Homo sapiens: one gene and its partner. The protein of the gene in region 1 purifies or fractionates together with the protein of each later gene. This does not show direct contact. Each region holds a gene or a part of one and is shown in the gene's direction. Other genes may lie near its edges.

Evidence for each region.
Region 2: the proteins of TM9SF2 (region 1) and TACR1 purify together in Homo sapiens (co-immunoprecipitation; one large-scale study listed by IntAct). This does not show direct contact.

Annotation. Positions count from the first base shown.
Region 1 is NC_000013.11:99,560,148-99,564,548, forward strand, and holds the end of TM9SF2 (transmembrane 9 superfamily member 2 precursor), read left to right. Parts: intron 1-2,543; coding exon 2,544-2,611; 3' UTR 2,612-3,901; downstream 3,902-4,401. UniProt on the Homo sapiens protein: In the intracellular compartments, may function as a channel or small molecule transporter.
Region 2 is NC_000002.12:75,192,765-75,196,588, reverse strand, and holds part of TACR1 (substance-P receptor), read left to right. Parts: intron 1-3,824. UniProt on the Homo sapiens protein: This is a receptor for the tachykinin neuropeptide substance P. It is probably associated with G proteins that activate a phosphatidylinositol-calcium second messenger system.

The DNA of each region.
Region 1 (4,401 bases):
CTTAGGAATTATAGCACCTTCCTTTGTCACAAGTAACGCTGCCCGAAGCGTGCATCTAAAATGTTAGCTCCTCACGCATGTCATGGAAGAAAATGCAGGAGCCAAAAAGAAAAAAGAACAAGTTTTTTTCCTCCAATTAAAACTGTTCTACTTTTCACTCATCTGTTAGCATTTCAGAGCCTGGAGTCGGGTTTTGAAGGGCCTCTGCTGCTGTCTCAGGCTTAAGGCACTTCCATCGATTCTGTATTCCAGGTCATTGATCAGACATGGTGGGGTGCGTGTCTTGGTGCTACGTGATAAATTTAGGTCCAGAGCTGTAAATTTTAATAAATCATCTATAAAACAGCAGTAGCCAGTGAAACAAGGAATGACTGTTTTTGTGCCCTGTGTGTCCATAAATGCATATACAGAATAATTTATTCCTAGCCTACACACAAAAAATAACGATCATTGTGAATATCTGTTGTTTTTCCAGACATATGATACAGAAAATGATAGCTTAACCATCACCTAAATTTTATTTATTTTTATTTATTTTATTTTTATTTTTTTGAGACGGAGTCTCACTCTTTTGCCCAGGCTGGAGTGCAGTGGCGCGATCTCAGCTCACTGCAAACTCTGCCTCCCAGGTTCACGCCATTCTCCTGCCTCAGCCTCCCGAGTAGCTGGGACTACAGGCGCCCGCCACTGCGCCCGGCTAATTTTTTTTATTTTTAGTAGAGATGGGGTTTCACCATGTTAGCCAGGATGGTCTCGAACCCCTGACCTCAGACGATCTGCCCGCCTTGGCCTCCCGAAGTGCTCGGATTGGGCGTGAGCCACTGCGCCCAGCTGATTTTGTTTTTTAAAGTGTTATATTTTCATTCATTCAGAGTTGAATTTTGTAATCTGAATTATGGAGTCATATCAAATGGAACCAACCAGTTAAACCAGTAACTTATAGTGTATTTCACTTTCTTCAATTGTATTTTTCCTTTAGTGAACAGGTGGAAGCATTCTGGATAAGGGAGTAGTGAGCCCTTTAAATGCCTTACCTTTCTCTAAAATAGGGTATGGTCTGTATTTGCTTCAGTACTCCAGAGCAATGCCATTTTATTGTATTTAAGTCAATCCATTTTACAAAACAGAAGTAATTATTCTGTCACAAAAGGAAAGACGCCACTTTTAGTACGTACATATATTCCATATTAAGAACAAAATTAAGTAACTAAACTTAAGTTTCTTAGAGTTGCCTGGATAGTGATTAAATGTTCTTCTCATCTTAAAATATTGTTTGTCATCTTGAAATTTATGCAAGTAAGTACAAAGTTATATAAATATACTGAGTTTTCATTATTGCTTTTCTGAAATTAACCCCAGCCCTAGCCTGAATAATTATCCTTTTGACTATGCAAAAGGTATATTTGTATGTCCTCCAAAACACACATTGTGCTTTGCATATAGTAGGGCCTCAATACATGTACAATGTAAGGATGGATATAATGATGTTTGTAATTTCCCACGGTAATGTCCCATGTATAGTCTCTTGATTTAGAAAATCTCCTTTAATATTTTCTCAGAGTACTGCATTTAAAACAATGGTGAAAACTATTGGGACTTTAAATGTAAAATTTATACAAGGATTATTTATAGTCCCTTATGTGTGCATGTGCAAGGAGTACTATGCTTGAAGTCAGAAAAAACGCATTTGATTTCTGGCCACAAGTACCATCCATGTGACCATGAGACAGTCACTTAACCCCTTTGAACCTCATTTTTGTCTCATTGAAAGAGTGTCCCCATCTAGCATTCAAATTCTTTGGAATCTAGACTGATACCTGAAAATCAAGCCATACATTGTTTTCATGAATTATCTCATTTACTCTACATAATAGTCTATGGAGGCAATGAGGACAGATAAATTTCTCCCTAGTTAATATGATAAATGGGCTTGGAGATGTCAGTGGACTTGCCCAAGGATGACACACACAGTTTGTGACAGAGCTGCTCTGTTCTCTGCTACCATGCTGTCCCTCATTTTCAGCTAGGATGCATTTTTGTTACTATCTAATCATGTCACTTTTAACATTTTGTAAAAACTTACTGAGTTATTTTATTATAATTCTTTGAAGACTGATAACTTCCAATAACTGTACTTAGAAAATATCCCCATTTAATCATTATTTGAACCTGTTTTAATGTATTCATCTCATACCTTAAAAAATTCTAGTAGCGTTTTCCATTTTGTTGTAAAATATTCTTAAATAGGAAAGGACAGTTGACATCCTTCAGTCTTTTCTATGTAGTAAGGAAAATAATGTGTATTGTAGAAAGCTTAGGTAATCTTATAGTAGAAAAAAGTTCTACCAATTTTTGTAAGAAACTTGATTTGAGGTGGTCGTATATTTTTCAGACGTGCTCATAGATCTGTAGTATATTCCCGGTGGGTAATAGTTTATAGTTTTGCGACTTTTTTAAGGAACCAGTCATTGTAAGTCTGTATTTTTGTGTAAAGTATGAAACTTCCTTTGAAAAGGGGTTTATTTTTATTTTTTCTCTTATAGGAACAATTGGCTTCTTTGCATGCTTTTGGTTTGTTACCAAAATATACAGTGTGGTGAAGGTTGACTGAAGAAGTCCAGTGTGTCCAGTTAAAACAGAAATAAATTAAACTCTTCATCAACAAAGACCTGTTTTTGTGACTGCCTTGAGTTTTATCAGAATTATTGGCCTAGTAATCCTTCAGAAACACCGTAATTCTAAATAAACCTCTTCCCATACACCTTTCCCCCATAAGATGTGTCTTCAACACTATAAAGCATTTGTATTGTGATTTGATTAAGTATATATTTGGTTGTTCTCAATGAAGAGCAAATTTAAATATTATGTGCATTTGTAAATACAGTAGCTATAAAATTTTCCATACTTCTAATGGCAGAATAGAGGAGGCCATATTAAATAATACTGATGAAAGGCAGGACACTGCATTGTAAATAGGATTTTCTAGGCTCGGTAGGCAGAAAGAATTATTTTTCTTTGAAGGAAATAACTTTTTATCATGGTAATTTTGAAGGATGATTCCTATGATGTGTTCACCAGGGGAATGTGGCTTTTAAAGAAAATCTTCTATTGGTTGTAACTGTTCATATCTTCTTACTTTTCTGTGTTGACTTCATTATTCCCATGGTATTGGCCTTTTAAACTATGTGCCTCTGAGTCTTTCAATTTATAAATTTGTTATCTTAATAAATATTATAAAAATGTCTTCATTGCATCATTACCTATTATATATTCAAGGAGGTTCTGTAAATACAGATCTATTTACCAAGGTGTTTTGAAATGATTTATACTATTTTATCAGATTTTACTGGATTTTGTTAATGTAACACTTTCTGAGTTTTGATCTGAATGGAATTTCACTGTGTAAGGCATTGTCTAAAATGTTCACTGTGAGGCAGTAGAGGAGGTTGAAGTCATGCATATCTAGACAGATGAATTATCTGCAAGTACTTAAGGTGGAGCCTTACTACATTGTCATTAAGGAGTTTCTATTTTTGACTTGTTTTTCAAAATACAGTGTTTTAAGTCAGGTTTTATTACCTGGACATTAGCAATCACTAGCAAGTCTTCATCTTTATGATTTCATTGTTTTAATTTAGATTTCACAAACAGTTTTACTTCTAAGAGTTAAGAAATGCACTGTCTTTCACATTCATCTGACTAATTGAAATCCATTTATGTAGAATATAGGAATGGGGGGTGATTCTGAAGTATCGGTCTGCTTGTATCTGTGAGCATATTCATTTGTATTTTAGGGTCTCTCTGCTTGCTGCTTAGGAGAGCAAATCAGATACTGTCATTAAACTTACAACTAAAATTACTAGCTGTCACTTATATGATATTGCTGGGTTCTTACTGAATAATTTTTTTTTTTTTTTGAGACAGAGTTTCCTTCTTGTTGCCCAGGCTGGAGTGCAATGGCGAGATCTCGGCTCACCACAACCTCCGCCTCCCAGGTTCAAGCAATTCTCCTGCCTCAGCCTCCTGAGTAGCTGGGATTACAGGCATGTGCCACCACGCCCGGCTAATTTTGTATTTTTAGTAGAGACGGCATTTCTCCATGTTGGTCACACTGGTTTCAAACTCCTGACCTCAGGTGATCTGCCCGCCTCGGCCTCCCAAAGTGCTGGGATTACAGGTGTGAGCCACTGCGCCCAGCCTTACTGAATAATTTTATGTCACTGTCCTTTTTTAAAAAAACGGACCTGTTGGTTTTGAAGAGTAAAGGAGGAGCTCTGTTCATTTTTAACATGGAATATTTAAGATAGAAGAGTTTCTTTCAGTTTTATGTATCTCTTGTATTTATTTTTTATGGGTAGAGTTGTCCCTTAGTATTTATGGGAGATTGGTTCCAGAACCCTT
Region 2 (3,824 bases), on another chromosome or scaffold:
CTAGGTAAACCACCGCAGAGCCCCGACCCTCTGTGATACCTGCTCAGTGAGACCAAAAGGTCTCGGATGCCAGAGCTTTAGGAAATGACAGCGACAGGGAATGTCACCATGTTTCCAACATGCAGATACAGCCCAGGGAGGTTACCAATGGCATTCCTAAGATTAGAGTTCAAGGTAGAATTAGGGATGAGACTTCAGGTCTCTGTCTCCATGTCTGCCAAGTGCTCCTTCTATTTTTTCTTGCTCAGCCTGGTGAGCACACTATAAACTCACCCCCTCAGGCCTTCCAATGAATATATTTCCTGCATGTGTGGTCATCCATTCTCTCCCAAGAATGTATTGGAAAGAAAGGGGGCTTTAAGTCCTCTCCCTGTAAGTTATCTCCCTTTTCTCCAGCATGGAAATGCAGACTTAGAGGAAATATTAAATCAGCTGTTTGTATATTCCTTGAATTTTTAACAGACAACCTTTGAATCAAGTCTTTAAAAATAACAGCAATGTGGCTTTCCTGATTGTAAAATTAAACCTGTTCACTGCAGAAGACTTGGGAAATATGAAGAGCACAAAAATCCAATCCCCCTTACCTAACCGACAAGAAGCAACACCTGCTAACCTTTGAATTTCTCTTTTATGACTATTATACTACATAATTGAGGTTAGATTCTATATAATTTTGTAGCCTATATTTTTCCATTGGTATTAATGAAAGACTTTAATAACACCTTCCTGTGTTATTCAAAAGTTTTCAGAAACATAATCTTAATGGCTTCATACTATTCTATTATGTGAATATGCTATTATTATTTACGTAGTCATTTCTCTACTGTTGTGTATTTAGGTGATTTCTAGATTTTTGCTATTATAATTAATAATCTAAGGAATATTTATATATGATAATTTTGTTTTGCCTTCTTGATTATTTTCTTAAGATAGATCCCAATAAGTAGAATTACTACATCAAATAAAATGAATTTTTAAAAAGCTATATCTTCTCATTTTAAAGGATTTTTAAAGGAATTGTTGAGTCAAACTATCTTGGTAAACTTTGTCAAATTTCCTATTAGAATCAAGATATATGCGGAGAAAAACTTCAGTTGCAGATTGCAGTACTAATTTAAATGTTTCCTGTAGTCTTTCTACAGGAAAGGTGGGGTGGGGTCAGGGAAGGAAAAAAAGGGATGGGGGGAAAGGAAGGGAAGGTAGGAGAAGGAGGGAAGAGGGAAGAAAAGTGGGAGGTGGGAAGGGGATAGGAGAGGAGGGGAGGGAAGAAATATCTCCATTAGAAAGAGTTTTATTTTTTGAAGGCAGCAGTTACCTAGAATTTAAAAATGTTTCAGAGACAAATGTAGCTAAATAAGATCAGGTTTACCTCTATCTAAACTCCAACAAATACCAGGGATTTTAGCTATTGAAACTCTATAATTTCTCTGACTTAGAATTTAAAAATTCTTTACAACTATAAAACTAAAAGGTATGTATGATGTTTCATGAAATTTGAAGATGGGGGACACAGAGAGGTGATGACTCCCCCCTCAACAGCCCCGTTCCCCTAACCCCCATTTTCAGGAGTTGGTGACAATTACTGGTTCTATTATGATGCTCTGGCAAGTACTGTGGAGCAGAACCTAAGAAGGGAGTAGAGGAAGGGAGGCAATCTCCAAGCCCTGCAGGGAGCTGGGGAATGGGCAACAGATAACCTGATTTGAAACCATGCACATAGCAACAGGAGCAACAGCGAGGTCCAGACAAGCACTGGCCTGGTATCACTGTTTCTCTACCTGGTAGGGGCAAGCATAATTTCAGCAAAATGAAAGGTAGCAGTTGCTCACTCAGACTCCAAATAAAATGGTCTCTCTGAGACCAAAAAATATAGTTGCCCAGAGAGAGTAATGGTTGAAGGCAAAAGAGGAATTGAGCTCTCTGAGAGAGCTGATAATGTAAAAGAGGAACCTAGAACAAAAACATGAATAAATCACAAAAACTTTGTCCACTGAACTCGTGTCTACACACTCTGTCCCAGCCATACTCAGCTACCAATTTAAATATCCTGCTTTCCAGGTCTCTATTAGACCTGCACTCTATCCTTGAACTTTACCTTGTTGGTTGAACTGCAATCTCATTGTTTATCTCAGAGCAGTCTTCCCTCACCCCACCTGGAGGGGGAATTAAATTCCAGGATCCTTTGCACTAATTCGGATGGCCCTGGAAACCCATTACCATGCACTGCTGTGATGCTGTGAATGGCCATTCACTAGAAGCTCATTGGCCACAACTGGCCCTGTCTTTTCCAATGTCAGCATTGATGTGGATCAAAATGGAGTTTGTTAATTCTCAGATGGGTCATTTAGATTTCAGGGCCTTTCTTCAAGAGGTCCAATGCCCACCTCCTCTCTGGAGCTGCTCCGTTACACTTGCCACACTCTCTCCCTACTCCTGGGAGCCTGCAGTGTCCTGAATGGTCAAGGGTGTTACTTTTTTAAAAAACTGGAAGAAATCATAGTTTGAATTGGAGGCAAATAAAGAATAATTCTCAAAATAAAAGCACATAGCACAAGCACAAGACACTGTTACTATTATTGTTGCTGAATTAGAGTGAGGATCATGAGACAGAAACACCATCAAACTTAGATAAAGATATTCAGTCTATCAAGTGTTGATGCCATCAAGGTAAGGTGAGGTTTCCTAACTCACAGCCTTGTTTATTCCCTCAAAGGGCTATATATGAAGGCAAATAAGACTGATTTAGAGGTAACTAAAATATAAGGTATTAAGTAAAATGTTTCATATGGGTTGTACAGATATATTCCATAGGAGACAAGAGGAGGGACATCCTGCCCAGCAGTGATGAATGATCAAGGAAGACCTCAAGATAGGGCAACTGAGTTAGGCCTTGAAGATTAGATAAGATTTTTAGAGAAGTTGATTAAAAAAAAAAGAAATGACCTTTCAGGTAGAAGAAGCTGTATGACAGAAGCATGGAAGTCAAATGTTGCAAAGTGCCTCAGGTCAATGACAGACTGATTCAACCGAAGTGAATTCACAGGTGAATCAGGGAATGAATTGAGGAGTTGCCCAGAAAAATATGAGAATACTCTATGTTGAATTTGACATGAAAATATAACGATTAGTTGGAATGCCCGACAAGAAACTTGAGAAGTGAGGCTAGAGAATGACAAGCCAGGGATCAAAGAGACAATATCAGCAGAGAATGGTAAGAGGAAATAAAATTAGATGGCAGTGAAGGGAATGATCTCTTTCCTCATCCATCCGTCCATCAAACCACTATTGAGCACTTACTGTGTGCCATATTCTGAGGCAGTAAGACATTGCCTTTGCCATTGTGTCTCAGTCTTTGGAGATTAACAAGGTCACGAACAGCATATAACCCAATGCAATCAATGCCATGCAGAGGGAGCAGAGTTAGAGCAAAGAACTCCCTTGGGAATATGGGAAAGACTTCCTGGTAAAAGGAGAAGAAGAAGGAGAGGGAGGGCAGTAGGGGAGAGAGGATGGAGGGGAGAGAAAAGAGAAGGAGGAGACAGAATGAAAGAGAATGAAGAGAAAGAAGAGGAGGAAACGACAAAGAGGAAGAGAGGCAGCAAGGCACAGGGAAATGAATGTGGAGTTTTGTGTTTTAATTAACTTCAAGAACACTGGATTGGGAATACTCATAATAATTTATTAATATCCATCATTTGGAAACTAGAAAGGAAGTTTTATGTTAATAAAATTGATAATGATATCTTTTATTTATGTTCCCTCCAGTCCATTGTCTCATTTAATCTTCATCATGCCAATGAGGATTCTGTTTCAACCTGGAAGAG